Linked DNA regions of Homo sapiens. The protein of the gene in region 5 purifies or fractionates together with the protein of the main gene of each other region. This does not show direct contact. Each region holds a gene or a part of one and is shown on either strand. Other genes may lie near its edges.

Region 1 (4,770 bases), about 94 Mb from region 5:
TTCGAGACCAGCCTGGCCAACATAGTGAAACTCCGTCTCTACTAAAAATACAAAGATTAGCTGGGCATGGTGGCACGCCCCTGTAGTCCCAGCTACTTGGGAGGCTGAGGCAGGAGAATCGCTTGAACCTGGGAGGCAGAGGCTGCAGTGAGCCGAGTTTGAGCCACTGCACTCCAGCCTGGGCAACAGAGTGAGACTCCATCTCAAAAAAAAAAAAAAAAAAAAAAGGGAAATTATTAAAAGTCTGTTAGGTTAGGTAAGTTGTCCAAAGTCACACAGCTATAGTAAAATCAAAAGTAGATTACAAATTGGTATAACGTGAACATAAAAATCAAATTTTAAAACAAAATGGGCAAATCAATCAGAAGAAAGAAAAATACTAACTGAGACATAGCTATGTATACACTCCCTATATTAATTTGTAAAATCCAATTTATCTCAACTAGTAGAATTTTCAGCACAGGTCTACAATCCCTTACGTAAAACCTTTGGAAAGCCAAATGTTTCAGAATTCAGAAATGTTTAGATTTCACGACAGTAATATGATACGGTATATACAGGATATACCATGCAACACTCTCAGCAGGTTCTGAGGCAGCACTAATAAAAATAGCAATTCTGCAGCAAAACATAAATATTTATAGGAAGCAGGCAAAGAATAAAAAAAAGTATTGGCATAAGTCAGGTTTTGCCACCAAATGAGTTTTTCACAAACTTATAATATTTCAGAGCCTTTTGGATTTCACAATAGTGATTACAGACCTGTACTATTAAGGAGATATTTTGGTGAAAAGGTTTTCTTCCTAAATAAAATCATTCAATTTATTCTATCAGGGAATAGTGAGGAATGTAAGGCCTTAGAAAACACTTTCTCCATTCTCATTCTTACTACTTAATCTTGACCACCTCATTTTCTTAGTTTGGTTTGTTCTAACTTTTTTGGATTTTCCTTTCAAATCTCTAAAGTAAAAGATGCCAACTATAAGTCAAATGACACAATGGTAGTCAGAACAAAAGATAACAAATCCCTCCACAAACCCCGAATCTTCCTCACCTTTGCCCCTCCAACCTTTTAGGCTGGAATCTTTTAGGCTGCCTTGTCTAATGAAGGCAGGGTAACTTCTACTGCTAAGTATCCAGGGTCTCAATATTCACTTTCTCAGCTTAAAAACACATGGCAAAAATTTTTGTAGATATAGATCCTGATTCAGATCTGAGGCACAGAGATCAGATAACTCTATTGTTTAAAGGTCTTCAGCCTGATTCTAATGCTCACCAAAGTTTGAGAATTATAGTCCTTAAGGTAGGCCTACCTGCTGAACTCAACCCCAACACTTCTGGGCCAGGGATGCTCTCCAGCAGAGAAACAAAAACGCCCAGCGCCTAGATTACAGAACTACATCTACTAAATAAGGAAAAATAACAGGGACAAAAACTAAAAGAAAATTCCTAACTGGAATTTTGCTTCCTAATCAAATTTTGGAAGGATGGGAAGAGAGGTGGCCATAAAATATGTTAAATAGTTGCACAGTTGTGCTTCTATTCAAAATAGGTAGAAAAACTGCAATGCTGAAAACACATCTACAAATAATTATGAATTAAGTATGGACTAAAATTTAATTTGGAGACAATTTCAACATTATCAAAAAGTTAATTCAAAGGCGAGTCTAATATTTCATCATCCTCCTAGAGGATCATCTATTCAGTCTGATTTTTTTAAAGCTAATTTTATTGTTAGCATTGATAGCTAACAAATAATTAAGCTTAAGTACTGCTAAAGCAAAATAAAATTTCATACCAATATATGCTTCCAGTTGTGCCTTTCATCTATATATTCATATGAACACAATTATGACAAATTATCTTACAGGACATCCTACACAACAGATTTAATAAACAATCCAGTTTTGTAGTCAATTCTAGAAAAACCAAAATAGTTTGAAATAAGCAAGTTATTTTACCTTTTTCTTTAGCATGAATGTCATCACATATGTGTAGATCTAGATGAGAAATCACTAAATGATGGGAGGTTTCCTTAACATCAAAATCATTGAATAGTTTCACAATTGCATCATTTACATCAGGAGCATTTGAAGTTTGCGTTGTCTTCACTTGCTGGGCAGATGCGACTACTGTAGAGCTCTAAAAAGATTCGAAACTGCCTTATCACTGCCAATTTAAATACTGGAAATTTCACACAAAAATCTAAGTATTTTCAGTCGAAAGTCATGAAAAATAACCATAGTACATCTTATTTTTCATCAATAATATATTTTCCCTAAAATATTTTCTGAATTACCTAAGAATAAAACTAAAATTTAAAAACGGTAAAACTAGGCTCATGCCTGTAATCACAACACTTTGGGAGGCCGAGGCAGGCGAATCATCTGAGGTCAGGAGTTCAAGACCAGCCTCGCTAACATGCTGAAACCCCATTTCTACTAAAAATATAAAAAATTAGCTGGGCGTGGTGCCGCATGCCTGTAATCCCAGCTACTTGGGAGGCTGAGGCAGGAGAATCACTTGAACCCGGGAGACAGAGGCTGCAGTGAGCTGAGACCGTGCCACTGCACTCCAGCCTGGGTAACAGAGCGAGACTCCATCTCAAAAAAACAAAAACAAAAACAAAAAAACAAACAAAAAAACTGTAAAACTATACACAAATCAAATATGAACCCAATATATCTCAGTAAATATCTGAAGTTATATTTAACATATTTATAGCCCTTGTTTTAGAAAATGTAGTTAACTCTTAAAGGCAGTTTATTTGAATATTATATATATTAAAAACAAAACAAATGTGGGCCCTGTATACACTGTTATATATCTGATATGGTTTGGCCCTGTGTCCCCACCCAAATCTCATCTTGAATGGTAGTCCCACAATTCCCACGTGTTGTGGGAGAGACCTGGTGGGAGATAATTCAATCATGGGGGTGGCTTCCCCCATACTGTTCTGGTGGTAGTAAATAAGTCTCACGAGATCTGATGGTTTATCAGGGGTTTCTGCTTTTGCAGCTTCCTCATTGTTTCTTTGACTGCTGCCATCCATGTAAAATGGGACTTGATCCTCCTTGCCTTTCACCACGATTACGAGGCTTCCCCAGCCACATGGAACTGTAAGTAGATTGCCCTGTCTCGGGTATGTCTTTATCAGCAGCGTGAAAAGGGACTAATATGATATCCTATAGAAATAAAGCACATCTTTGTAGAAGCCCCTGTGATATTATTTAGTACTCTAAGTGCTCTGGTGCCTCTCCTAAAAGATGTGGTATGTCCTTTGAACTTGAATAACTAAAGAAGCCAGAAAGGAGACAGGATTTATAAATAGGTTGTGAGTTCAAATATTTTTCTCCCTGAAGAGAAATAGTATAGAACCCTGTTGATATATAAAAATAAATATGAACCTCTAATAGCCTAAAATTATTTTGTATACATAACTATAATGTAAGATTATCTGACATATGAGCCACAAAACTGTAGATGAATTTTTATAATAATTATAAGACCAAATTTTCCACTTTAAAAATTAACAATGTTCAAATTTAGAACAAGTTATTAACTAAAGATAATTAAAGAAAATCAAAGTATATGTATTTTGCATGTATATATATTTACACATATTACATCTATGAAGAACTATGATCATACTGTAAAAGAACTGCAAAGTATACTTAGTAAATGAGAATCTCTTCATGAAAATGATTGCAGCCCAAGGTAAGTAAAGAAACAAAGTGAAATATAGCTGTAAAACGTTAAATACTATAGACTCCAGAAAACTTTTTATTAATTAATTGTTAAACTGATATCAAACACTTTTTCTCCTGCTTTTCCCATTTTCAAAGCTATAACAAGACTGTATTTATGTCTATGATGGTGCTATTTAAAATACTCTCCGGTACTTCTTTCATTATGTTTTCTCTCTTATCAAGATAAATACTGATAAAAATAAAAATATAAACATTTATCTACCTACAAACCTTTTTCTTAATACTATGGTAAAGTCAGGTTTTGGGATGCTATTTCTGGAAGAAAAAAAATGGGCCACTATAAGCTCTCTGCCTCATGAATAATCCTTTTTTTTTTTTTTTGAGGCAAAGTCTCACTCTGTTACCCAGGCTGGAGTGTAGTGGCATGATCTCAGCTCACTGCAACGTCCGCCTGCTGGGTTCAAGTGATTTTCCTCCCAAGTAGCTGGGATTATAGGCGTGCACCATCACGCCTGGCTAATTTTTTTTTTTTTTTTTTTTTTTTGAGACAGAGTCTCACTCTGTCACCCAGGCTGGAGTGTAGTGGCATGATCTCGGTTCACCGCAACCTCTGCTTCCCAGTTCAAGCGATTCTCCTGCCTCAGCCTCCAGAGTAGCTGGGACTACAGCGCCCGCCACCACGCCCAGCTAATTTTTGTATTTTTTTAGTAGAGACAGGGTTTCACCACGTTGGACAGGCTGGTCTCAAACTCCTGACCTTGGGATCTGCCCGCCTTGGCCTCCCAAAGTACTGGGATTTCAGGCGTGAGCCACAGCGTCCGGCCCCTAATTTTGTATTTTATTCTATTTTATTTTTTGAGATGGAGTCTCGCTCTGTTGCCCAGGCTGGAGTGCAGTGGCATGATCTCGGCTCACTGCAAGCTCTGCCTCCCAGGTTCATGCCATTCTTCTGCCTCAGCCTCCCGAGTAGCTGGGAGTATAGGCACCCGCCACCACGCCCGGCTAAATTTTTTGTGTTTTTAGTAGAGACAGGGTTTCACCGTGTTAGCCAGGATGGTCT
Region 2 (4,770 bases), on a different chromosome or scaffold from region 5:
AAATGATCACAGAAGGAATTCACAAAATGAAATGCCTCGGGAGTTAATGGAATAATAAGTACTTTCCTTGTCTTAGATGCGGAGGTGCTTCCAACCAGGAGAATTAAGGGGAGAAGACAAGAGAGGTTTAGGGAGAGGACTCTCTCTGGGGAGTCTAAGTGCTGATGCCTTGTTCAAAGCTTCACCACATCTTCTTCTCAGTGGATGAAGGGAACCCAAGGAGGAAATTCACCTGAAAAGAATTCCCTGTGACACTTGGGTGTTTTTCCTGAGAAAAAGCAGACTTCCTCTTTTTTTCTTCTTCTACCCCACAGTAAGGAGGAGCTAGACAACTTTGGCAGGACATTACTAAGATTTGAATTTCTGTATTATCTATCATCTACATTCTCTAGATATTCTGCACTTTTTTTTGGTTTAACCTATAAAACTCTTCCCTAAGCCTCATATATGTTAGTAACTAATCATGGCAAGAGCTATGACTACAAACTTGTAGGTTCCTATCACTAATGTACCTTTTTTGGAACAGGAAGGTGTTTTCCAAAGAGTCTTTCTCGAGGTGCTAACATAATCTCTTAAAATCAGAGTCCAGGGTATTCTCTATATAGTTATGTAAGAATGAACAAAATTCATGTTCTGCAACTGGCCCATGTTGTGGAAAATAGACCTGACATATTTTTCAAGTACGTGTAAGACTCTGGAACTCTTTCAGCTTATACTTCAAAGACACAGAAGAGTAACTTTGGGAACCCTATTTAGATTTACATGCTAGAAAAATTTTTCCCTAAGTATTAGTTTGACAATGGTGACAATAAACCCACTGTCACCCATCTGATAAAGAAGACTTACCCTTTTCAATTTGGCAGCAGCCTCTCCCGAACGGATTGCAGTCAGCAAACTCTGTCGCATCTGTTCTGGGTCAGAGCTTTGGAATGTTAAAGAACTTTGTCTCATAACAGTGAATGATGGGCCATCAGTTGGAGTTGGTATTTGGGAATTCTGTTCATTATGTGCAGAGTTATTTTCCTACAAAAATAAATGTGAAATATTTATATGAATGCCAAGAAAAGAATGGGCCATTTTTTGCAAAACATTTTCATCATCAATAGTTCTTTAACAATCACCATTTGCCACACTGGTGTTTCAGACACAGCTCTGTTTCCTCACCCACTGAATTATCTCTGCTGCCAGAGCTAAGCTGGAAGATGAGGGCATTATTCTCTCTTGAACTCAGGAAGCCAAAGAAGAAAAGTGGTACCACTCTTTGCTTCATAAATACAGTGGTAATTTTATTGTTCTTGAGTTAAATACTGCTGACTTCACCAATACACAGAACTGGTTAGAAAAGCCAAATTAAGATTTTAAAAAATACTGCAAACTAAAAAATGACCCATTTTCATGGTTTCAACATACCAGGCTATGAAATTACTATTTTTAAATGAGCAAAACAGTCAAATAGACAATGTCATATTTGTTGAATCTAATATATCTTCTAATAAAGGAATACTAATTACTATGCTACACTTAGTAGCTTATTTTGTGTTTCTGGAAGTCACATGGACTAAGTGCTAATCATGTTTTATTTTTTGCCATGAGAATCAATATAAAAAATTAGGAACTTCCAAACTGAAGACTAAAAAATTTAATTACGCTTCTCAGGAAGGAATATTTAGTAACTGATGTAAGTGGCATATGTTATCAAGTAATCTTAAATGTCTTTTTCAAACTGCCAAATACGTATCTTTACCAAAAAATGAGCCAAACAGGGCTCAGGCAATGACTTAAAAGCTTTATTATCTAAACCAAGCTTCCATTGTTTAGGAATGGTATTCTATTCCAAGAAAAATCACAGGCTTTGTGCCCAAGTAAAGAATTAATCTTTGTATCATACTTCTATTCCTGATGCTATATCAAAGTAATAAACATAAATGTAAAATACATGAAAAATATTAAGATAAATGTTGTTATACAATTATGGAAAAATATTTACTTGGCAATATGGTTAACATTCTTTTGCTCTAGGAATGTTTGAAAAAGTAATATTAAATACTTCTGGAACTGTCACACAAATATGAATGTATTCTTTAAACACTATCAGAGTAAGAGTACACAAAGTATTTCTTTAAAATTGCATGAGGATTATCATAAATCATGCTGTGAATTTCATCTTCTCCTTTGACTCTATTATCTGAAGCTAGCAAAATACAACATTTAGTTGACCAAACACTAAGTCAACAACATTCCTTTATGGTAAATATTTAAGGTTAGATAGTGGTTAGATAACAGTTTGGTCAACATACATATTATAGTTGAAAGTTGACACTGAATTAACAAAATGGGGAATTAAGAAAATTACATTTTAAAACTCTGCTTTCAATGTATTTATATGTGAAAATGTACAATATATGCAAGCTGAAGTTGAGTGTATATGATGGAAATCACATAGCTAAGAGATGCTCAGTTATTTTGTCTAGCCTCTCATACTATTATTTTTCCATTTCATTAAGACTATTTCCTTTACTATTACATAGTAATGTAAAATTGGAGAATAAACCAGAAGATTTAGACAAGTTAAAAACAAATTAAGATAACACAGGAAAATAGAACCATTAACTAGTAAATATATCATACAAATGAGCAAAGAAACTTTAAAACATTTGCTAATGACACAATTATATAATGATGACCTTACAGTAATACCTAAACAAGTTATATAAGTTATAATTGTGAGCAAATAATCAGATTTTATGTATCACCACTCTCTTCACTACAATAGCTTAATTTCAGATGAATATGAGTTCAGAGTTAAGTAGCACACAAACATCAACATGCTTGTTAACCCCCATTAAACCATGTCATTAAATTTGAATACTTATTTTTAAAAAGGCTACAGTTACCTTATCAGACACACCAAGCTGTGGGATGTCCACAAATTTATTTACAGAATGAGTCTTCCCTTCCTCTGTGTTGGCTGGAGGTTGGACCAATGCACTGGCACTAGGTGACTCGGTGCGCTCTTTACTGAAAGACTGTGACCTTTTCACTACAGCAAGAGCAAACGGTGAAGGACCAGAACTTGAGTATGGTCGTGGGGCACCAAAAGTTTTCAAAGTCTTCAGATTTTGTGTGGATACCTGACTAGCAGGAATTGTCACAGGTTTTGGAGCTATGGGAGGAGGGGAGGCTTCAGCAGGAGCCTGACCGATGACATCATCATCAGTTTTTTCAACAAGGGGTTGTGGAACAGAGTGAGGCATTTTACTTAAGGGAGAAAGAGTCTGCTCCGGAGAAGGCAGCATATCCCTTTCTGCCTCTTTATTTGTCAGTTCTTTTGGAGCAGGATTAGGGGCAGCATGGACACTCTTGGCAGCTGCAGATGTCACATAGTGACCCGATACTCTCTTCTGCATCTGCAAAAAAAAAGAGCTGGGTTTGGCCTGGGCATTTGAAGCCCGAGATTTAAATTTTGATTCCAAAATATTGTTTATTTCTTCCAAATTTGGTGCAAAAGGAGCTGTGCCAGTGTCTCTTGTCATTTTGGGAGCAGGTTTCAGAGGACTAACCATGGCATCATCAGGTGAGCTCACAGAACTGGGCACTTGATGCTCTGTTCTCAGGTTAGGCTTCGGTTTAAGGTTTGGCAGTGGCTCTTCTGGGCTTTCAGAAATAGCAGAATCTTCTGTTTGGATGGCAGTTTCTTTCACATTCTCATGAGTGTGCTTTTTCCCTAAAGCATGCATGTCCTGATCATCTTTATACTCTATGGTTTCTGATTGCCAGTCTTTCGATATTTCCAAGGATTTGGGAGGCACTATTTTATAAGTAGTCATGCCAATTTTGGGTATATACTCTCGTGTAATTTCATTTGAAGGTTTTGGCTTGGGATTGTAGTCCTGTCTATAAAGTGGGTAATTCTTTAGGTAAGAAGCAGTGGAATTTTTGTCAATCCTATCTACAGGAGGCAAAAGATCATCATTACCATGTGCACAAATTGGATCTTTTACGGTAAGCGGATCTTCTGAATGTATAATTAGGGTGCCTTGACTCCTGAATTCCCTTGAGGTATTTACAGAATCTTGTGAACTTAAGCATGAGTGTTGAGTTGATATGTTGTTATTTGAAGTTTGCACACATTCTTCAACTTTGGAGTCAGATAAATTATGATCTTGGTGTTTCCCATCAAAACTGTTACAAGAAGGGGTTGTCTGAATTGCTGCATCTTTTGTCTTTTCTGCACTGGGTTGATTCAGTTTTTGATCTGGTACTGATGAAGCTGCTAGATGGTTTTCCTTGTAACTTATAGCAGTATCAGTTTCATGTGCCTCAGAGTTTGATGGTCTCTCAACTTCCATATCAATGTTGTTATTTTTGGCAACACCTTCTACATTGATTTCTGTTTTCTTCACTCCATTTTTCATATTGTCTTCTGTGTTCTCTGGATAGACAATTATTTCATTTTGAACTACTGAGAGAAAAAAATCATCAAGTTAAATATATGAAAGAAGTAGAAAACCTCAAGTTTTTAATGCCTACTTTCTCCAACCTGAAATAGTTTGGTTTGAATTCTACAGATAATTTTCAACTCACTGACTATATAAAGGTAGGTAGTAGCATACAGAGAAAACAGTACGTGCTTTGGATTCATACAGACTGAAGTTTGGAATCCCTGGCTTAACTAGTGTGGCCACAACATGTTAATTAACCCCTTTGAGCCTCAGTTTGCTCAGACATAAAAAGGTGAAAATATTTATATTATATGTGTATCATTTAGAT
Region 3 (4,770 bases), on a different chromosome or scaffold from region 5:
ATCTCTTCGTGTCTTGCTTTCTCATCAGATTAGGTGTTTTCCAAAGCTAAGGATTATGCCTTCCTCCTGGGCCACAGTACTGATAATGAGAGTAGGCTGGAGTAATCAAGAAAGTTAACTTTTAAAACAGAACTCAGTGGTTCTCAGATATGAGTATGCCTGAGAATCAAGGGGGAGCTCAGGAGTAATGCAGATTCCTAAGCCTTGCCTGCCTCTCTCAGAGAGGTTGATTTAGGGGACTTCCATGGAAGCCAGGAGTTGCCTCTTTTTTTTTTTTTTTAAATTTTAAAAACAAGCATCCAGTAATTTTGATGCAAGAGGACTGTGGAGCACCTTGGACACTGACATGACCACAGGATTGGGAGCTAAAATAACCACACCTGTGTTCTAGAACAAAAAGTTCCCCTCTGATTTTCAGTGATCAAAGAGCCCCAGGAATTTGACTCAATGATTGTAAGTTGACCTTTCCTTCAAAGTTGTACAGAGAAAACCCTGTGAATGACCAGATCATAGGGAGCAATTTCTGTAAAAATTATAGACATGAAAAGATTTTTGAGAAATTACCTCATCTGTCACCAGCCTTGATGCTGAGTGACATCAAATCTGTTTTATATGGATGAAAATTTATTCCTATTTTAAAAGACAAGTAGTAAAGAATATTCTCTTGATGTAACCAACCTTAGCTAGGCAGCAGAGCTGCATGCTGATGGAAAAATCACATTTTTTTTTTCCTCCTAACAAGGTTTAGTCTGTCCCCAGGCTGAAACAGAAAAAGTGGCTTCTGTGACTAAGAAACATAACATTAAAAATATGCAGTGTTGATGGTAGAAAAGGGGGCTTTTAATATGGAGAATTTTTATTCTGGTTTTTTATTTTTTCATTTTAGATTTATGCATAAATTAAATAAAACTTTAAAGATTTTGGTTTTGCAGGCAAATATAATCTTATGTTTATAACTTCTGCCACTTACCTTAGAAATGAGCATAAAGCCATTGATTTGTATTCTTGCCCACTCATGTTAAACTCTAAAGGTCTAGGAAGGAACCCAATTTTGTTTACACCAAAATCCCTTTTCCCTCTACTCTGTAGAAGGAAGTCATCTCGTGCACTCTGCTGTTCAGCCTCATTTATTTCCTTCAGAGCACAGCACATAAAGTACTGTTTGTTTCCTTGTTGCTGTTCTCCTTCACCATCCAACTGTAAGTCGTATGAGGAAGGGACTACAGTTTCCCTCACCACTGCATCCTCAGTTCTCACAGTACTTGGAACATAAGAGGCATTCAATAAATGGAAATTTTTGTCAAGGATTTCTTTTTCTTTTTTTTTTTTTTTTTTGAGATGGAGTTCTGCTCTGTCCCCCAGGCTGGAGTGAAGTGGTACGATCTCAACTCACTGCAACCTCCGCCTCCCAGGTTTAAGCAATTCTCCTGCCTCAGCCTCCCAGGTAGCTGGGATTACAGGCATGCACCACCACACCTGGCTAATTTTTGTATTTTTAGTAGAGACGGGGTTTCACCATGTTGGCCAGGCTGTGTCAAGGAATTCTTTATGTCACGGTGCAAGGTGGAGGAAAGGCCAAGCAGGTTGGATCTGGAGGGCTAAGTTTTAGTCTATTTCTTTGCCTGTTTCTGCATCTAGAAATGGAAATTTTATCTGCTTTACCTTTAGGGTAAAAATGAGATCATGAATAAACATGTTTAACATAAATTATACAAATGCTTTGTGGTATAATTTTGAAAACCAGGGTTTGCTTGAATTTGAGATGGGAAATTTTATTAGAGTATCATAACTGTTTTAAAGTTAACCTCTTAATAAGACATTCATTCTAGTTTTTAATGCAATTGTGGCACAAATTTTCTTTGTACCTTTACTGGAAAGTAGGTATTTAAAAATGTTATCATTGGAGGGATTCACTTTTAGGAAATTGTAGGGTGAAACCACGGTTTCAGTTAATCCTCCCCAAAATGAAAATGCCTTAGGGTAAGTTCACAGATAATTGTTATTTTCTACGTGTAAATGTGCCACTTAACTACCTTAGTCCCTTATTAAGATTTTGATAAATACTATGGTTTTCATAATTAGTGTAATTTGTCTTAGAAATTTGAAACTCAACATTGTATAGAAGGAAAAAGTAAATCCTTAATATGTAGAATTTCTATTTTGTTTTTTAATTTTCTGTTTCAGATTAATGGTTTTAAGAAGTACAGCTTTACTTTTGCAAAGGTTTTGGTTCTACAGGGAAATTATAATCTTATGTTTGTTTATAACTTCTGCTATTTGATTTAGAAATGGGCAAGATGTCATTAACTTGCATTCTTTTTCCCTCAAGGTAAACTGAAGGTCAAAGAAAGGACAACATTTTGTTTAAATCAGAATTCTCTTCATGTACTTTCTAGCAATAGATAGATAGATCCATAAAGATTTGTTTATGTTCGTATGAGAAGTTTGAACTTTTTTCTTAGCAAGAACATTTTCATAAGATATATTTTCCATGATTAGAGTATAAATAATGCTGGGAAAAGACAAATTTGGTTGTTGTGAACAGTTATTACACAAAATCCATTAGTTCTGAAACCTTTATTAAATTTTATCACCTATCAGAAGTAGTTGTTTAGAAACCGGCTTGTTAATGGAGAATCAATGAAGTTGCACTTAGTTCTGGCTACAGCTTTGAGGGACCTGACTGTGGACACTGCCATTTAGTGGCCTCCACATACGTATGTGTGACTGAGTTGGTAGTGACTCTCTCTAGTTATTTGGTACCTAGCTCCCATATTCCATACTTAAAAGTGTTTATTTTAATACTTTTCTGTAATTAGTGAAGATACAAGGATTGCTGCTACATTTATGAAGTATGTTTCAATACAAGTTTTTATTACTTTTGGAAAAATATATTTCTAAAACTAACATATCATAATTTTTACTGAGTTAAATGCCATATATCTTTCAGAGGATCATAAAACAGGAGTTGGGGCAGTCATTTGGGCAGAAGGGAAATCTGTAAGTATGAAAACAATTCTTTAAATATTTAACCTGGATTTTGTTTAAACATAGTTCAGTCTTCGGTGCATTACAGGTTACTGACTGCCAAGGCGGGCAGATCACAAGGTCAGGAGATTGAGACCATCCTGGCTAACACAATGAAACCCCATCTCTACTAAAAAAAAAAAAAATACAAAAATTAGCTGGGCGTGGTGGCGGGTGCCTGTAGTCCCAGCTACTCGGGAGGCTGAGACAGGAGAATGGTGTGAACCCGGGAGGCCGAGCTTGCTGTGAGCAGAGATCGTGCCACTGCACTCCAGCCTGGGTGACAGAGCGAGACTCCGTCTCAAAAAAAAAAAAATATTAATATTTTTGTAATGGTGCATTTATGAAGATCTATAAAGATTTGCTCATCCCTCAACAGTTTTCTAGATAGACGCATTCATTCAGCAAACATTTGTTAAACACTCTCTACAGGTTAGGCACTGTGCCACAGTGAATGCTGGGGATTAAAGATCACATTTTATGGCCTCATAGTTTAGTGATGGAGATGTAGAAGTAAAATATAACTGATATGTAAGTGTAATTATAACTGATATCATGAGAACATAGAGGAGGAACCTTTGCTTGGAAAAATAAGTAAATACTGTTGGTGAATATTATTAATGTTACTAATATAATATTCTTGAAGAATAAGATAATTTCTTCAGACAGAGCAAGTCAATAGGACCAGGAGGATAACATGAATATTCTTGGTGAACATTCTTTTTTTTTTTTTTTTGAGACAGAGTCCCCCTCTGTCACCCAGGCTGGAGTGCAGTGGTGCAATCTTGGCTCACTGCAACCTCTGCCTCCTGGATTCAAGTGATTCTCATGCCTCAGCCTCTTGAATAGCTGGGACTATAGGCATGTACCACCACACCTGGCTCATTTTTGTATTTTTAGTAGAGATGGGATTTTGCCATGTTGACCAGGCTGGTCTTGAACTCCTGGCCTCAAGCAGTCCACCCTCTTCTGCCTCCCAAAGTGCTGGGATCACAGGTGTGAGCCACCATGCCTGCCCTGAATATTCTTAATATTAATATTAATAATGTTAAAATTCTTGAAGATTAGGAGGATATCATCAGGCAGAGCAAGTTAATGGGACCAGGAGAATAACACACAGAGACTGGGGTGAGAGAGAGAATATGGGAAAACGCATTTGATTTGGCACATAGAGTAAGCAACAAAGTGGACGGGACCATGAAGAACTCTATATTCCATGTAAAGATTTTGGACTTTATCCTGGCAGTGACATACTATAGCACAGCACTAACCAGTAGAGAGAAAAGGCAAGGCTCAAACTGAATTTTAAATTTTCTAGGTGTTATATATATATATATATATATATATATATATATATATAGAGAGAGAGAGAGAGAGAGAGAGAGAGAGAGAGAGAGAGAGAGAGAGAGAGAGAGAGAGAGAGAGAGAGTCTCACTCTGTTGCCAGGCTGGAGTGCAGTGGTGCAGTCTGAGCTCACTGCAACCTCTGCCTCCTGGGTTCAAGCAATTCTCCTGTCTCAGCCTCCCCAGTAGCTGGGACTACAGGTGTGTGCCACCACACCCAGCTAATTTTTGTGTTTTTAGTAGAGATGGGGTTTCACCATGTTGTCCAGAATGGTCTCAATCTCTTGACTTCGTGATCCACCTGCCTTGGCCTCCCAAAGTGCTGGGATTACAGGTGTGAACCACTGCAACCAGCTGGAGCCATGTTTTTAAAAGGAAGACAGATAAATTAATTTTAAGA
Region 4 (4,770 bases), on a different chromosome or scaffold from region 5:
TACAGCCAGGGTCTATGCCCAGTGCCTCTCCAAACTTTGTTTTAAATCATCCTAGCTTCTCCTGGCTGTGAGATTTCAGGAAGGGACTTAACCTTTCTGAGCCCATTTCCTCATCAGTGAAATCAGAATAATAAACGCACCCCCTGTACTCCAGGTGGGTGGAGGACTAATTAAAAGGTATTTACCACACTGTTTGCATACAGTTGACACTAGAAAATATAGTTGCATTATTTTTCTGAAAATCTGTTTAAGATATTGTAAGCTGCCCAGAACTCAGAGCAGGTACTCAGTATATGGCCGGACTTCAGGAAAGCTCTAATGATGAAAGAATTTAGTGCCCTGGCTTGGCAGGAAATTTCCCATAGAAGAAGACATTTTAAAGCTATAGATCCTGTTCTTAAGGAAGAGTCTCAGTAGGTTAAGAGAAAAAAAATACGGTCAAAGTCCAAAATACAATGCCGTTGAAGCCCTGAAACATGGCGATGTGTCTGTTTACAATGAAAACACTTGGCAGCTCAGGGGGACCTCGAAGAGCAAGCAAGTCTGACACCTGATTGGGGCAATCAGGTGTCTGGGGCATGAAGACGAGGCTTCGGGAGAAACAGCTGGGTCTCTCACTCTAACCTATGTCTAAGGGAGGCAGCCCAAGTTTGGGGTGGCCCAGACCTGATGGTAGGGGCTGGCAGAGTTGATTTACCTTCCTATCTCTAGACATTTTCCTTTCTGGTCCATCCCCAACATAAACTGGGGTCAAAATGTCCTTAAGAGAGTTAGCTGTCATCTCCTAACTCATCTCCTATGAAATGTGGTGGGAACAGAGATTAGGAAGGGATGTCTATGCCCTCTCCCCACCCATGTCCATCCTCAACCCTTTCCCCCATGGATGAGGCCTCCTGTGCCCTCTTCCCACACCCTATGGCATGGGGTGAGCTCCATGCTCAGCCTCTCAGAGCTCCTCAGTTTTCCTGTCTGCACAACAGGTACTCCGATGCTCAGTGTGAGACTAGAGGAGGTGATGAGCAGGTGGCACAATGTGCAGTGCCTATGGCCAAGCAGAGCCCCAGAGGGCCAGTTCCCACTCCTCTGTCGTACTGGGTGGCACAGAGGCTGGCCAAAGCCACTGATTTCTTCCCTTCCCTCTCCAGCTTACACCTCTTGTCTTCCTTCTGTCACCTCAATTTGGGGAGGCTATAACTTCACCGGGGTTACACACCCAAGACCAGTCCATTTTAGGATCCAAGCAAAGTTTCCTGAGTAGCACTCTCTTGAGTGTTTCATTTAGAAGGTACTTGGAAGAGGTACCCCCCTTTCTTTCTTCCTCTAAGTAAGCATGAGCAAAGGGAACTGGGAAAACAGCGATCCAGCTGACCTGGAGGTACAAAAACATCAGGACCCTGTAGGAGCATCTCTCTGATGGCCCGATGAGCTTCTCCTCTTTTCTAATCCAGCATCTCTTAGATTTGTAAAGGAAGCCAGTGTCTGCAGAGCTGAATATGCAATGTCACAGCAGAGGTCTAATGGACCCACCACCTAACACACTCCTGCCTCTTTTCCGTGGCACTTCTGTCTCACTTTGAATAAACTGCCTCAAAACTGAAACCCGGAAAAACCTGACAACACTGTATATACAACTGGCCTGGTAGGTTACAAAAGAAGTTCACAACAGAGGCAACCTGGTGCCACGGAGGTCTGGATGCTGATCGAGAGCAAGCAGAGGCGTGCGCGGGGGAGGAAAGAGTGTGAATACGCTCATGAGCCTCAATACAAGAAGCTATACGGGAGGCTGGTGAGATTCTGGAAACCACTGAGACAACTGTCTGTAAATTGTCATCTGTTTCCTGGAGTGCTGTCCTAAGTCTTCCCCAAACAGAGCAATGGAATTTGGAAATGTCAAGCTCCTTGCAAGACAGCCGATGTGAAAGACAAAAAAGCAAGTGCCACGATCTTAATGCAATATGTCACAGGGACCCACGGAATCTCCTGCCTCCTCAAAGCTTGCTTAGTTCACAGTCAGAATGAGGTTCGCAGCTGCAACCCAGCTATGCAAAGGTGAAGCAGCCAGGAAGTCGGCACGTGGCTTTGTCCTACTGGTCACTATCAAACACAGTAGGAATGATGACAGTTCAGGTACTGGTCTCATAAATCCCATACCTAAGGAATTCTGCTATGTCTTATTAAAAAGAAAAAAATGAAGGAACAACAAAAAATTAAAGACTGTAAAGCAGAGACAGAGATGAACTCAGAAGTTAGGATGGATGGGGACCGAGATCATAATCTATCCTGTTTAGAAAATACTGCAGAATTCAGAAAAGCTAAGAAGCCCAATCATCTCTTGAAAATCCAAACCAAACAGGTAATTAGGTGAAGACCAACTTTCATATTCCCCTCGCCCTCGATGCTTCTTCTCACTGCCACACTCACACTCACGGGACACCCCATGGTTGGCACAGGTGACACTGCATTATGCCAAGACAGGCTCTCAAGATTTCCTGGAGGCTTTTCTTAAATCAAACATGCTAAGAGGCAAGGAGAATGGGGGTATTCCAAGGATGATCCACATTTGGGTTTATCTGTTTATAATCAGAGAATGGGGGTACACAGGCCCTCCCCAAGAGATACATTTTCTGTACAATGAAAAATTCAGTTTCCTATTTCTTAACTTTGTTTGCAAACCTACACGCCTCTTCTCTCTTCCACCATGTGTAATAAAATCCATCGCATTCTCTTCTATCTTCAGTCATGTAGTTTTTGTGTTTAACATTTATAAAATGTGTTCTTATGAGTCTGAAATCTTTATCAGTTCAAATCATTCCTGATTTCCCATCTACAACCTTCTAGGTCTTTCTTCTTTCTCTGCCGCTTTCCTTGTTTGTCAGTGTTCTGTACTGAAATTCCACAGGGATGGCAGTTAGATGAGGACTTCCATCATCTCTCCATCAGGGAACTCGGGCTTGTGCAGCAAGCTGCTGACCCGGCCTCTGTGGTCAGGCGACTTCCCATGGCCAGGAGAGTTCTCTGCCAAATAGAGGGGAAACATCAGCTGCCCATTCCTCAGGAGGGGCATAGGCTTTCCAGGTTCTCTAAAATGGACCCACGTCCGATACCACTGCACACCCAGGATTCTCACCACAGGGCATGTGAGATGATCCAGCCCACAGTGGGAACATGCAGAATGACTGGGCCAGGATTCAGACACAAATACAAACCAGGATGGTGAAGGGAGAGGATTCAGAAGGTGAGGATGACAGTGGGACTCTGTACAGGAGCCCCTCACACCCTCTACTCAAAACTATCAGGTGCATATTCTGAGCTAGGCACTTTTGACAGGTTCTCTGGCTTACTTGGAAAAGAATCACATCTTTAAAAAGTGACAACATTGTATTTACTTGTCTACTTTGAAAAATGAAATAAACAACCCCCTTGGAGGAAACAGTTAACTTAGGGCCCACAGAGCCTGCACCTCCTCAAAAGAATTCCTGAAAAGGGAGGTCCCCATGACCATGATTAGTCTCAGGTTTTAGGATGTGGAGAAGCCAATGGTAGGCTGGGTACTCTCTGGCTACTTAAAGCCTTACCCATTTAAGAACATTTGTGGGATCCCACTGACCATGGCCATGGTACTCCTTTGCTTAAGAGGAGTGCCTTAAGAGGCCAGGTCTATTCTTACCCAGGACACTTAGGGACTCACTGCAAAGATCACCTCTCCCAAGTTGTCTTCCCGTAAATATTTTAAACAGCTCGTTAGTCCTGGCCCAAGTGCTGTGCCACACGTTAACCGACTCTGCAGGTCAATCTACCTTCTCCTTCCATCACAATGTCCTCCACTGAGGCCAGAATCCCTGGTAAGTTAGAGCCCTGAAGGCAACAGTGAACTTGTGCCTTTGATGTACCTGGTGCCTAATTCTGGCTCCCAAACATACCAGAGGGCATTCAGCCCCTTAGAGGGTCTGTTGTCACTCCATCCGGGGAAAGGTTAGTTAAAAAGTATGCATTGCCAGGGTAGTCTCAAGCCGTGCACTCATTTCAAATAGTAATAAACTAGATGTGTCTATATGCATATTTATTCCCGTAATAAGAAAGGGCACACATATCCTAAGTGCATTAGAATAGCATCCCCATAGAGTAAGAGCTGATGGGTGCCCCTGCTTCCTCTCTAGCTCAACAAAAGATTCTCTTAGGCCAGACAGTTCCACAGTTTTCAGGGGCATCAAGGTGGGGTAGCCCACATACCCAGTTTCTCTGCGGTCCCTTTGGCCGCTGGGTGTTTCAGGACGGGGCTGTGAGCAGGGGTCGTGCTCAGCCGGCCGCGGCTGGGAAGGGAGGCCATGCTGGGCCAGAAGAGCTCGGCACTCTTGTCAGTCTGTGTGCTGCTGTCCTTGCTGCCTGTCTTGGCGTGGGCACTGCTGGCTGCCGTAGTGGAGGCTATGGAGGACAGTGCTGAGGTGGGTGGGGGTGGCAGCAGTGGGGCAGAGGCATGCTCATGGTGCTCCTTCCCCAGCAGCAATCCTGAGGGCAGAGAACAGATTTTTCAACATTCTTTTTTTCCTTTTTTTTTTTTTAAATCTAGTCTTGCAGATCTGTTCCTTGTTGATTGATGATTGCTTCATTCATTCATTGATTCATTCCCCAAGCATTTAATAAACACTTATTACAAGGCTGATAAAATAACAAACACTGAGAGAATAAAAAATGGAAGACCTAGTCCCCTTCCTAAAAAATTGTAGGTTTTTTTTGTGTGTTTTTTTTGTTTTTTTTTTTTGGAGTGGAGAA
Region 5 (4,770 bases):
TGAGGCAGGAGAATGGCGTGAACCCAGGAGGTGGAGCTTGCAGTGAGCCGAGTTCAAGCCACTGCACTCCAGCCTGGGTGACACAGCGAGACTCCGTCTCGGAAAAAAAAAAAAAAACCTCACTCTATCCAGACCAGGACATGAACCCTCCCTCTGTCCCAAGGATCCACACTGTCTATACTGCCTGCCCATTAGTTACTTAGGAGCCATCTCAGTGATGAGATTGACTGTCGTGGTATGGCAGTGCCCGTGTTCAAGGAACCCTTATTTTTACTTCATAATGGCCCCAAAGCACAAGAGTAGTGATGCTGGCAATTTGGATATGTGAAAGAGAAGCCAAAATATGCTCCCTTTAAGTGAAAAGGTAAAAGTTTTCAACTTAATAAGAAAAAGAATCCGATGCTGAGGTTGGTAAGCTCTACAGTAAGAATGAATCTTCTATCCGTGAAATTGTAAAGAAGGAAAAAGAAATTTGTGCCAGTTTTGCTGTCACACCTCGAACTGCAAAAGGTACCGCCACAGCGCACGCTAAGTGCTTAGTTAAGATAGAAAAGGCATTGAATGTGTGGGTGGGAGACATGAACAGAAACACGTTCCAGTTGACAGCAACTGGACCCAAGCTATCAGGAGGTCAGTGCTATCTTTGGTTTCAGGCATCCACTGTGGGTCTTGGAACACATGCCCTGAAGATAAGGGGGGACTACGTATGAATCTCCCATGTGGGCCTGAAGAGAGGCTGAGACGCAGAGAAGGCTCCATGCCTCTCCCAAAGTCAGAGCGTCGGGAAAGGACCACCTCACCAGGCCAGGAGAGCTCACGGGGGTCCCGTCCATCCCTCCTCCCACAGCAACAGCAACCTCCATTCTGTGGTTCCACAAATCCTTCTTCCTTTGTTTGTATTTTTGAGACGGAGTCTTGCTCTGTCGCCCAGGCTGGAGTGCAGTGGTGCGATCTCGGCTCACTGCAAGCTCCGCCTCCCGGGTTCACGCCATTCTCCTGCCTCAGCCTCCCGAGTAGCTGGGACTACAGGTGCCTGCCACCACGGCCAGCTAATTTTTTTTTTTTGTATTTTTCGTAGAGACGGGGTTTCACCGTGTTAGCCAGGATGGTCTCGATCTCCTGACCTCGTGATCTTCCCGCCTCGGCCTCCCAAAGTGCTGGGATTACAGGCGTGAGCCACCGCGCCCGGCCTCCACAAATCCTTCTTGCAGCTCCTAAAGCCTAGAGTTTGAGCTAAAGCACCAGCTCCACTTGCCTCTAGGTACCTCTAGAAGGTACTTCAAGGCTTGGGAAAAAGCATGGAGATTTCTCTGTTATCTCAAAGGCTGAGTGGAAGAAACAGGAAAGTCCCAGTCCATCTCTGAGTGCCATGGCACTGATAGTGTTAATAATAATAAAACAGTCCCCACTATGCTACACTCGCTATGAGCCAGACACTGCCCTAAGCTCTATATATGCATTATTTCATCTGATCTTCTAAACAACCCTATAGGTGAGGTATTATTAAATTCCTCATTTTACAAATAAAAAGGCCCGGCACAGTGGCTCATGCCTGTAATCCCAACACTTTGTGGGGCCGAGTTAGGAGGACTGCTTGAATCCAGAAGTTTGAGGGCAGCCTGGAAAACATAGTGACACCCTGTTCTCTGTAAAAAAAATCAAAAAATTAGCCGGGCGTGGTAGCACACGCCTGTGGTCCCAGCTACTTGGGAGGCTGAGGTAGGAGGATTGCTTGGATCCAGAAGATCACGGCTGCAGTGGGCCTGGAGTGACAGAGCAAGACCCTGTCTCAAAAAAAGAAAGAAAGAAAGAAAGAAAGAAAAAGAAACAGGTGTAGGGCTGGACACATGGCTCATGTCTCTAATTCTAGTACTTTGGGAGGCCGAGGCAGGAGGATCACTTAAGCCCAAGAGTTTAAGACCTGCCTGGGAAACACAGGGAGACACCATCTCTACAAAAAAATACAAATAAAAATTAGCTGGGTATGGTGGCACACACCTGTGGGCCCAGCTACTCAGAAGGCTGGGGTGGGAGGATCACTCCAGCCTAGGCAACAGAGTGAAACAGAGTGAGACCTTGTCTCAAAAAAGAAAGGACAGAAAGACAAGGGAGAGAGGGAGGGAGGGATAGAGGGGGAGGGGAAGAGAGAGAGAGAGAGAAAGGAAGGAAGGAAGGAAGGAAAGAAAGGAAAGGAAAGGAAAGGAAAGGAGGGGCTCAGAGGGAACAAGTAACTTATTACAAGTTCAGGGTGGTTGTAAGTAACAGAGCTGAGATTTGAACCGATATCTGTCTGTTTCCAGAGCCTGAGGTCTTCAGAGCCCACCAGGAGGACTATAGCTGAGAGATCACTCCTCCTCCCAAGACCTTGGTCTCTAGGGTCCTGCAGCAGGGATGAGGCCACTGCGCCTGCAGCCCCACTCAAAACCCTCTGGGACACCACGCCCCTGGCTTCCGCTCCTGCCCTTACCTCTATCTGGTCAATGGTCTCCTGATACTCCTTCTCCCGGGTTTTGAACAGGGACTCCGTATCTTTAATCACCTTCTCCAGGCTATCTTCCTGCTGCTGGAGTAGAAAGGGAAGCGGGGGAGGCCAGCCAAGGAGGGATGGGATGGGACGCATTCCAAAGGGCCAAGTCAGGGAGAGAGAGAGAGAGGAAGTCTGGTTAAAGAAACTGGAGAAAGAAAAGCAAAAGGATAAAGGAAGAGGGGAGACGCAGGTAGAGGATGACAGCCACATGGGGGGACAGAGCAAGGAGAGGAGCGGGGGAGTGGGCTTCAGGCTGGAGAGGCAGAGCCAGAGGGCCCTGAGGCCGGGAGCAGAGGTTACCTCTCCCTGGGCCTCTGCAGCTGCCATGGCATAGCCTGAGAAATCCTCCCAAAGCAGCAGGGTCTCCTCAGTCTCCTCCCAAGTCAGGCTGTCACAGTCGTCCTCAAAATCATACTCCCTCCTAGAGACAGGGAACCCGGGTGTCAGGGCGGGCGGGGCCTCGTCCTGGCGGGGGACTGGGGAGCTCCGGCCTCCTGGGCTGCTGTGGCGTCGGTGCTGCGGGAGCACGGCCTGCGGACTCACAGCTGGTTGAGCATGCGCTGCATCTCCTCGTTGATGCTGAGGGCTGTGCTCTCCTCCTCATCCCCATCGGGCTGGCGGGGCCCCTCACTCTCCGACAGGGAGGTGTCCTCCTCGACGGCAGCCTTGCGCTCCCGCTTCCGCCCCCCCATGGATGGGACCTTAATGGGAGACAAGTGCAGAGACTACAGAGACGAGGCCGGGTGCATGAGGAGAAAGGGCGGGAGCGGGAGGCCGGGCAGAGAGGGTGGGAATGGGGGAGAAGCATGAACCAGTAGGAAGGGGGGGCAGACAGAGAGAAAAGTCACAGTTACAATGACAGGAACAGAAACACGGACAGTCACCAAGGGCCAGACACACAGCGGGGGTCAGGGCTGCAAACCGAGAAGGCAGAACAAGAAGAAATCGAGAAGAAGAGCAGTCAGACAAGGAAGGAAGGGCTCGCTGGGGCTGCAGTCAGATGTGCATGATGGCTCAAGAGGAAATTTTTTTCTAAAAAAAGTCTTTTTGATTAAATGACTCAACTAAAAAAAAAAAAGCTTTAGGACGCAAGGAGGATGAGTGTGCAATGTGTACAAAAGAGAACCTGAATCACATCCAGATCTGGAAAGCCGGGGGAGAAGGGAGAGAAAGAAATGCAGTCAAGAGAACAAGAGATAGAGAGAAAAAGGGGGAAGAGCAAGGAAAAGGGAAAGGGCAGAAAAAAATCCGTGCTCAAGAGCCCAGCGGGCCCAAACTGAGGGCCAGGAGGCCTAGGCAGCTTAGAAACTGGGACTGGGACATTAATAAGCTTGCGTGAGATCAAACTAACCAGCTTCTTCTGTGGAGGAAGCAAGAGAGAAGATGAGAGGAAGAGAGGAGAGGAAGCAGACAGAGGAGAGAGAGGGGGAAGGGAGAGACGGCGTTAGAGACAGCTTCCACGATGCCCCTCCTGATGCTGCTCCTTACCCCCCAGTCTAGCCCCGTGAGGGCCCCAGTTGCCAGGTAAGGCTCCCCAAGCAGGAGGCAGGGCCTGCGTTCCAGGCCAGCCGCCACGGAAGCATCCACCTGCCCCACCCACCCCTGAGAGCAGAGGGCAGCTCCGTCCTCACCTGGAACATCTGGATCATGTCCTCGCAGTTGCGCTGCTGAGCCACATCGCAGAGCTTGGCGGTGATGTCGATGCGGCGGCAGATGTCCATATCCACCTTCATGGCTTTCTCCTGGATCTTGGTGTCCAGCTCCGACAGGTTCTGTCCAGGGAGCCCAGGGAACAGTGAGGAGGCGCCCAGTTCTCCAGACAAGGACGAATTAGGCCTGGCAAGGTCCTCATCCTTCCCACCACATTGCACCGGTGCCTCTTCTGTGGAGTCTCCCTGAGCTGACTGCACCCCTCTTCCTGGGTAGCGGTGGCCTCCCCACAGCACTGTGTGAATATGCTGGGCATGGGGCGGCTCGGGCCACTGCTCCCTGGCCAAACGGAAGCCCTGGAGGGCATGGCCAGTGCCTGGGACATGCAGGGGGCTCACTGGAACGACTAGCGGTCCTCATCCTCCTAGAACTTACATTCCCAGAGAGAAAGAGACTCCTGGGAATTATAAGAGTGGAGAAAGGACTATAATAATCGCAACAGCTAACACTCTTCCAGCTAACACTGCATGCTGGGCACTGTCCCGAGTACATGACCACCCTCACAATACTCCTGCAGAGCGCACGCGTTTATT
Region 6 (4,770 bases), on a different chromosome or scaffold from region 5:
AATCATCCTCAGTTGTTTATTTCCCTTTATCCCCCAATACACTATTATTAATTATTCAAATGTATAAATTTGGCAGCAAAAAATTTCCCTTTAATATAGAGACTTCACTACTAATAAGAATGAGCATCTTTTCCTGTTTATTGACCATTTATATCTTTTCTTGTGAATTTCTATCTGTTGTTCCTTTTTTAGGGGGTTATTCTTCTTATGGGTGCAGAGAAATCATAGCAATTGCTAGTCATACAGAATGCAATTTTTTTCTGGTCTGTCATTTGTTTTTTATAGTGTGCTTTGTGATCTTAATTTTAATACAGTCAAATTTGTCAGTCTTTTGTATTATGGCCAATGGGCTTGAATATCACTGAGTATCTTTATATCTTTCATTTTGTGTTTCAGCCTTTAATATGTATGTGATTTCTTATAGCATGTGATGGAAAGTAAATATTTAACTACTTAACATTTCTGCTTAAACAAGTAAGTTTGTCATCATATAATGCTTTAGAGATTTACAGCCCACCCTAAAACAGAGTTGGCAAATTATACCCACTGCCTATTTTTGTAAATAAAGTTTTATTGAAACATGCTCATGCTCATTCATTTACAGATTGTCTATGGCTATGAATGCACTGGAGCAGAAGAGCTGAGTAGCTATGATAGAGATCATATAACCTGCAAAACCTAAAATATTTACTGTCTGGCCCTTTATATGAAGTTTGCCAACCCCTGGTTTAAAAACATTTCTGCTCTACCCAACATGAAATTCTAAACTGAAACCCTTCTTTAAACAATTTAAAAGGGTTTCATTCTGCCAAAATAAACTGAGAATTCAGTCTGGGCCTAATTGAAAGTTAACTAAGTTTAGACATAAGCAGGAATTTGGGGGCTGGAGGGTTTCACAGTCTTATAGTGCTTTTCTGAAAACAAGTAGGGATTACAGCACAGCAAGAGCTCTGGAATCTACCTAATTAAAATTATATAAATGTTATTCTATAGCAAGGGTGAAAAGGACTAAAACAGAGCCAACCGGTTATCATGGCTGATCAAGATAAAGGTAGAAATAAGACTCAGTAAGGGAATACAACCTCTTGTCCAGGGGCTGACCCTTGTAAAGAAAGAAAGAGCTTCAGGATGGAGGGTGGGCAATAGGTCAGTGAATTCCAGGTAGTAGGCCACATCCATAATTGCGGCATGCTCCTTAGTAAGCAGAGTGGTAAATGGGTACAAATAGAACACAGAACAGAAAGAATCCTAACCAAGAGGTTGAAGGAAATAAGCCAACTAATAATAATGGTTCTTTCTTGGTATTGGGGTTTATTATTAATATTATGCTTCTTTGTAATATTCAGTATTGTCAAGACAGTCTCAAGAACTGAAGGAAATTCAGATGAAATAAAACTGGGCAGGAAGGAAAAGGAAGAGGGGAGAAGAAAAAAGGAGAAAAAGAAGACAGAAAAGTAAGTAGTGGCCTGGTTATTTTGAAAGAAATCAAGGCCGGGCGCGGTGGCTCATGCCTGTAATCCCAGCACTTTAGGAGGCTGAGGCGGGCGGAACACCTGAGGTCAGGAGTTTGAGACCAGCCTGACCAACATGGTGAAACCCTGTCTGTACTAAAAATACAAAAATTTGCTGGGTGTGGTGGCACACGCCTGTAATCCCAGCTACTCAGGAGGCCGAGGCAGGAGAATCGCTTGAACCCAGGAGGCAGAGGTTGCAGTGAGCCAAGATCGTGCCACTGCACTCCAGCCTGGGCGACAGAGTGATACTCCATCTCGGGGTGGGGGAAAAAAAAGAAATCAAGACAGTTTACACACAGAAGGTGAAAAATGAATAATCTTAAATTCATCAAAATACCTACTTTAAAACATAATGTTACATTACTTTTCAGATTTTTTTCTGGCTCCTTTTTCTTTTTCAATGTAGCAGTAGTTAAAAACAGCACAAAAAAGTACTCTGGAAACACTCTATTAATAACAGATTTGTTCTGGAAACCTTAGTTCATCTTGCTTTGGTTGAAATGGATGAAAAGCAAGAGCGAGTTCAAAATTACTGACTCTAACAGAAAAACACAAAGACACTAGAATGCAGGAACAATGTATTTAAGCCTTTAAACTCCTCTGAAGTAAAATACAGGAATTCTGGGTTGGCTAAGGTCCTAACAGGAAAAGTGTGTTGTCTATTTCCTTACAGAAATCTTTTTTCCCCCCATCTAAGTTTCCATTAAAACAAAATTTTGCACCTTCACCTAGCAAATCTAAACCCATGAGGAAAAAAAAAACCCAAAACTCTTTTCATAACTTGTTAAGACATATAAAAATTTGGTAAGTGTTCTCTTTACATATATCATAATGTCCTTGCTGATCAGGGTTAGCTCTGGGTGAGGGGACTATAAGCACATCATTACTACGCCATCCATAGGAACTAACCTCTCCAAAAGTAATTTCACATCTTCCCCCATGTCACACACGTTTCCCTGAGATCTAACACTCTGCAAGTGAAGGACTGGATGTTTCTTCTGATGACATTTATCTCATGTATTTGCTGCATAACCCTCTTGGCAAATTTTATTTAATTGTTTAGAAGCATGCAGAATATGCACCACATGCCAAGAGGAACTCAGCAAACCCTGTCTGCTATAGTAATGTTTAAATTAGACAAGGGAAAAAGACTGTGAACTTAATTTGATTAAATAAAGGGACTTTTGATGTCAACCATCCTGAATTTAGCACTCACTTTTTTTTAAAAAATAGGTATTTTCTTATAAGTGTTTTCATAAGAAACAAGATAAAATGTATTTGATTAGTTTCCATCAGCCTATTTTATTAATATGCCTTGGCAGGCTTTCATTTATGCTGGTAAATTCTGATGATGAGTCTGTTATCAGAGAACTACACTATATCAATCGGGTTATCAGTAAAATTAACCTAAATATCCATTCTATTATTTTTCTTGATGAGTCCACTTAAAGAGAAACTTACAAAAAACCAAAAGCCATATACAACTGGATCCAGACTGAAGAGGTTGAAAAAAAGAACTTCCGCTGGGTGCGGTGGCTCATGCCTATAATCCCAGCACTTTGGAAAGCCGAGGTGGGTGGATCACGAGGTCAGGAGTTCAAGACCAGCCTGGCCAACATGGTGAAACCCCATCTCTACTAAAAACACAAAAATCAGCTGGGCGTGGCGGCACGTGCCTGTAATCCCAGCTACTCCTGAGGCTGAGGCAGGAGAATTGCTTGAACCCGAAAGGCAGAAGTTGCAGTGAGCCAAGATTGCGCCACTGCACTCCAGCCTGGTGGCAGAGCTAGACTCTGTCTCAACAACAACAACAAAAGGACTTCACTCAAAGTATACAAAGAGAAATGCTCCAACGCCCAGGAATAGAGTCATAGAATATACAAACATTTTTGTTTTCTAAATGCTTAAATTTACAGAAGAAAAAAGAAAAAGTAGTTTTTCATTTTGTGACTTTTCTTAATTTTGCATTTTCTTCTCAGAATATATGTAAAGGGATCACACTATTTACATTTACCCTAAAGAGCTATCTTTCCTAGACAGAAAAAAAAATTATGAAATAAAAGAATTACTTGATAAAAATCACTGACAACTTATTTTCTACCTGCTTCTCAAAAGCAGGTCTGGACTGTATAAACCTAAGTTTTTCTTCCTTTTCTTTCTTTCTTTTTAATCTTACAAGGCAGATTGATTTCTTTTGGTCTGTCTCCCCCTTCCTATTACACTTTATTTTTCAAATATATAATACAAGTACATAGTATGAAATTTAGAAAGACACATTAGGCTGTGTAGTTAACTCCTTACCCCTGTACTCCCAGTCACTCAGTTCCCCTCCACAGAGCTATTCTTCCCAGTTCCTAACACAGCTTTTCAGAGATTTCTATGCTTAGATAAGCATATACATGTGTATGTGTGTGTGTTCCCCTACATAAATATGCCCTTGATACTGTTATGTACCTTTTTTACTTATGAATTCCATATCACCTCATATAAATTTAATTCATATAAAGCTGCCTTCAAAAAGTAGTTATATGGCTCCATAAGATTCCATTGTACAGATGTGCCATTAATTTATTTAACCAGTTCTCAACTGAGGGACATCTGGGTGGATTCCAATCAGGTCTGAAATGACTTGCAATGAAGGATCTGCTGTCCTATAAGCTAACATAATTTTAGTTCATCTTAACCAAACATAATAGTAGCTCCAAATTCTTTAGCTAAAATCAAAGGTTATTTTAGTCAACAAAACAAAATCACTTTTATCGAGAAAGAATTCTATGTGATATTTGCCTTTATAATAAATGTCAAAATGCAAAGAAAAAGACAAACAAATTTCAGTTGCTAATACCCAATTGCTGTTAACGCAACAACAACTACCAAATGGCAATTACGAACTTACCCTCTTATCTCTAGCTACCTTTAAATTATGTCCCACAGAAAAACTTGACTGAGAAAACCAGTAGTTAGGATTTGGTTTTTAAACAAAAAATAGAAAGTACTTTTTAAAAGGTGACAATAATGCAATCTTACTGAAAAACAAATGCATATAATTAGAGGAACGTCTTAAAAGGAGGCACTATGTACTTAAAGAAATCAGCTCCTAATTATCAGCTAGATGAATGCTGCTGGTTTCAATTCCCTAGTTCTACCTTCCTCTAATTTCCCAATACTGGTTTCAAGATAAACTAAAATAGGAAATTAAGACTAAAAGCTAAAATAAATAACAATAATTTAAAAAAAAAACCAGCTTTGGAAGAAC

What was found.
Region 1: the proteins of IFFO1 (region 5) and BLTP3B purify together in Homo sapiens (affinity purification with mass spectrometry, with the first as the bait; one large-scale study listed by BioGRID). This does not show direct contact.
Region 2: the proteins of IFFO1 (region 5) and COBLL1 purify together in Homo sapiens (affinity purification with mass spectrometry, with the first as the bait; one large-scale study listed by BioGRID). This does not show direct contact.
Region 3: the proteins of IFFO1 (region 5) and CDADC1 purify together in Homo sapiens (affinity purification with mass spectrometry, with the first as the bait; one large-scale study listed by BioGRID). This does not show direct contact.
Region 4: the proteins of IFFO1 (region 5) and AMOTL1 purify together in Homo sapiens (affinity purification with mass spectrometry, with the first as the bait; one large-scale study listed by BioGRID). This does not show direct contact.
Region 6: the proteins of IFFO1 (region 5) and HMBOX1 purify together in Homo sapiens (affinity purification with mass spectrometry, with the first as the bait; one large-scale study listed by BioGRID). This does not show direct contact.

What each region holds. Positions count from the first base shown.
Region 1 is NC_000012.12:100,086,954-100,091,723, forward strand, and holds part of BLTP3B (bridge-like lipid transfer protein family member 3B), read right to left. Parts: intron 2,143-4,770; coding exon 1,962-2,142; intron 1-1,961. UniProt on the Homo sapiens protein: Tube-forming lipid transport protein which mediates the transfer of lipids between membranes at organelle contact sites. Required for retrograde traffic of vesicle clusters in the early endocytic pathway to the Golgi complex.
Region 2 is NC_000002.12:164,691,375-164,696,144, forward strand, and holds part of COBLL1 (cordon-bleu protein-like 1), read right to left. Parts: intron 4,463-4,770; coding exon 2,895-4,462; intron 1,024-2,894; coding exon 847-1,023; intron 1-846.
Region 3 is NC_000013.11:49,271,341-49,276,110, forward strand, and holds part of CDADC1 (cytidine and dCMP deaminase domain-containing protein 1), read left to right. Parts: intron 1-2,950; coding exon 2,951-3,000; intron 3,001-4,770. UniProt on the Homo sapiens protein: Catalyzes the deamination of cytidine and deoxycytidine into uridine and deoxyuridine, respectively. May play an important role in testicular development and spermatogenesis.
Region 4 is NC_000011.10:94,868,934-94,873,703, reverse strand, and holds part of AMOTL1 (angiomotin-like protein 1), read right to left. Parts: intron 4,507-4,770; coding exon 4,231-4,506; intron 3,016-4,230; coding exon 2,909-3,015; 3' UTR 1-2,908. UniProt on the Homo sapiens protein: Inhibits the Wnt/beta-catenin signaling pathway, probably by recruiting CTNNB1 to recycling endosomes and hence preventing its translocation to the nucleus.
Region 5 is NC_000012.12:6,545,598-6,550,367, forward strand, and holds part of IFFO1 (non-homologous end joining factor IFFO1), read right to left. Parts: intron 4,300-4,770; coding exon 4,159-4,299; intron 3,888-4,158; coding exon 3,879-3,887; intron 3,253-3,878; coding exon 3,071-3,252; intron 2,949-3,070; coding exon 2,828-2,948; coding exon of another isoform or gene 2,564-2,827; coding exon 2,468-2,563; intron 1-2,467. UniProt on the Homo sapiens protein: Nuclear matrix protein involved in the immobilization of broken DNA ends and the suppression of chromosome translocation during DNA double-strand breaks (DSBs).
Region 6 is NC_000008.11:29,011,699-29,016,468, reverse strand, and holds part of HMBOX1 (homeobox-containing protein 1), read right to left. Parts: intron 1,435-4,770; exon of another isoform or gene 1,347-1,434; intron 1-1,346. UniProt on the Homo sapiens protein: Binds directly to 5'-TTAGGG-3' repeats in telomeric DNA. Associates with the telomerase complex at sites of active telomere processing and positively regulates telomere elongation.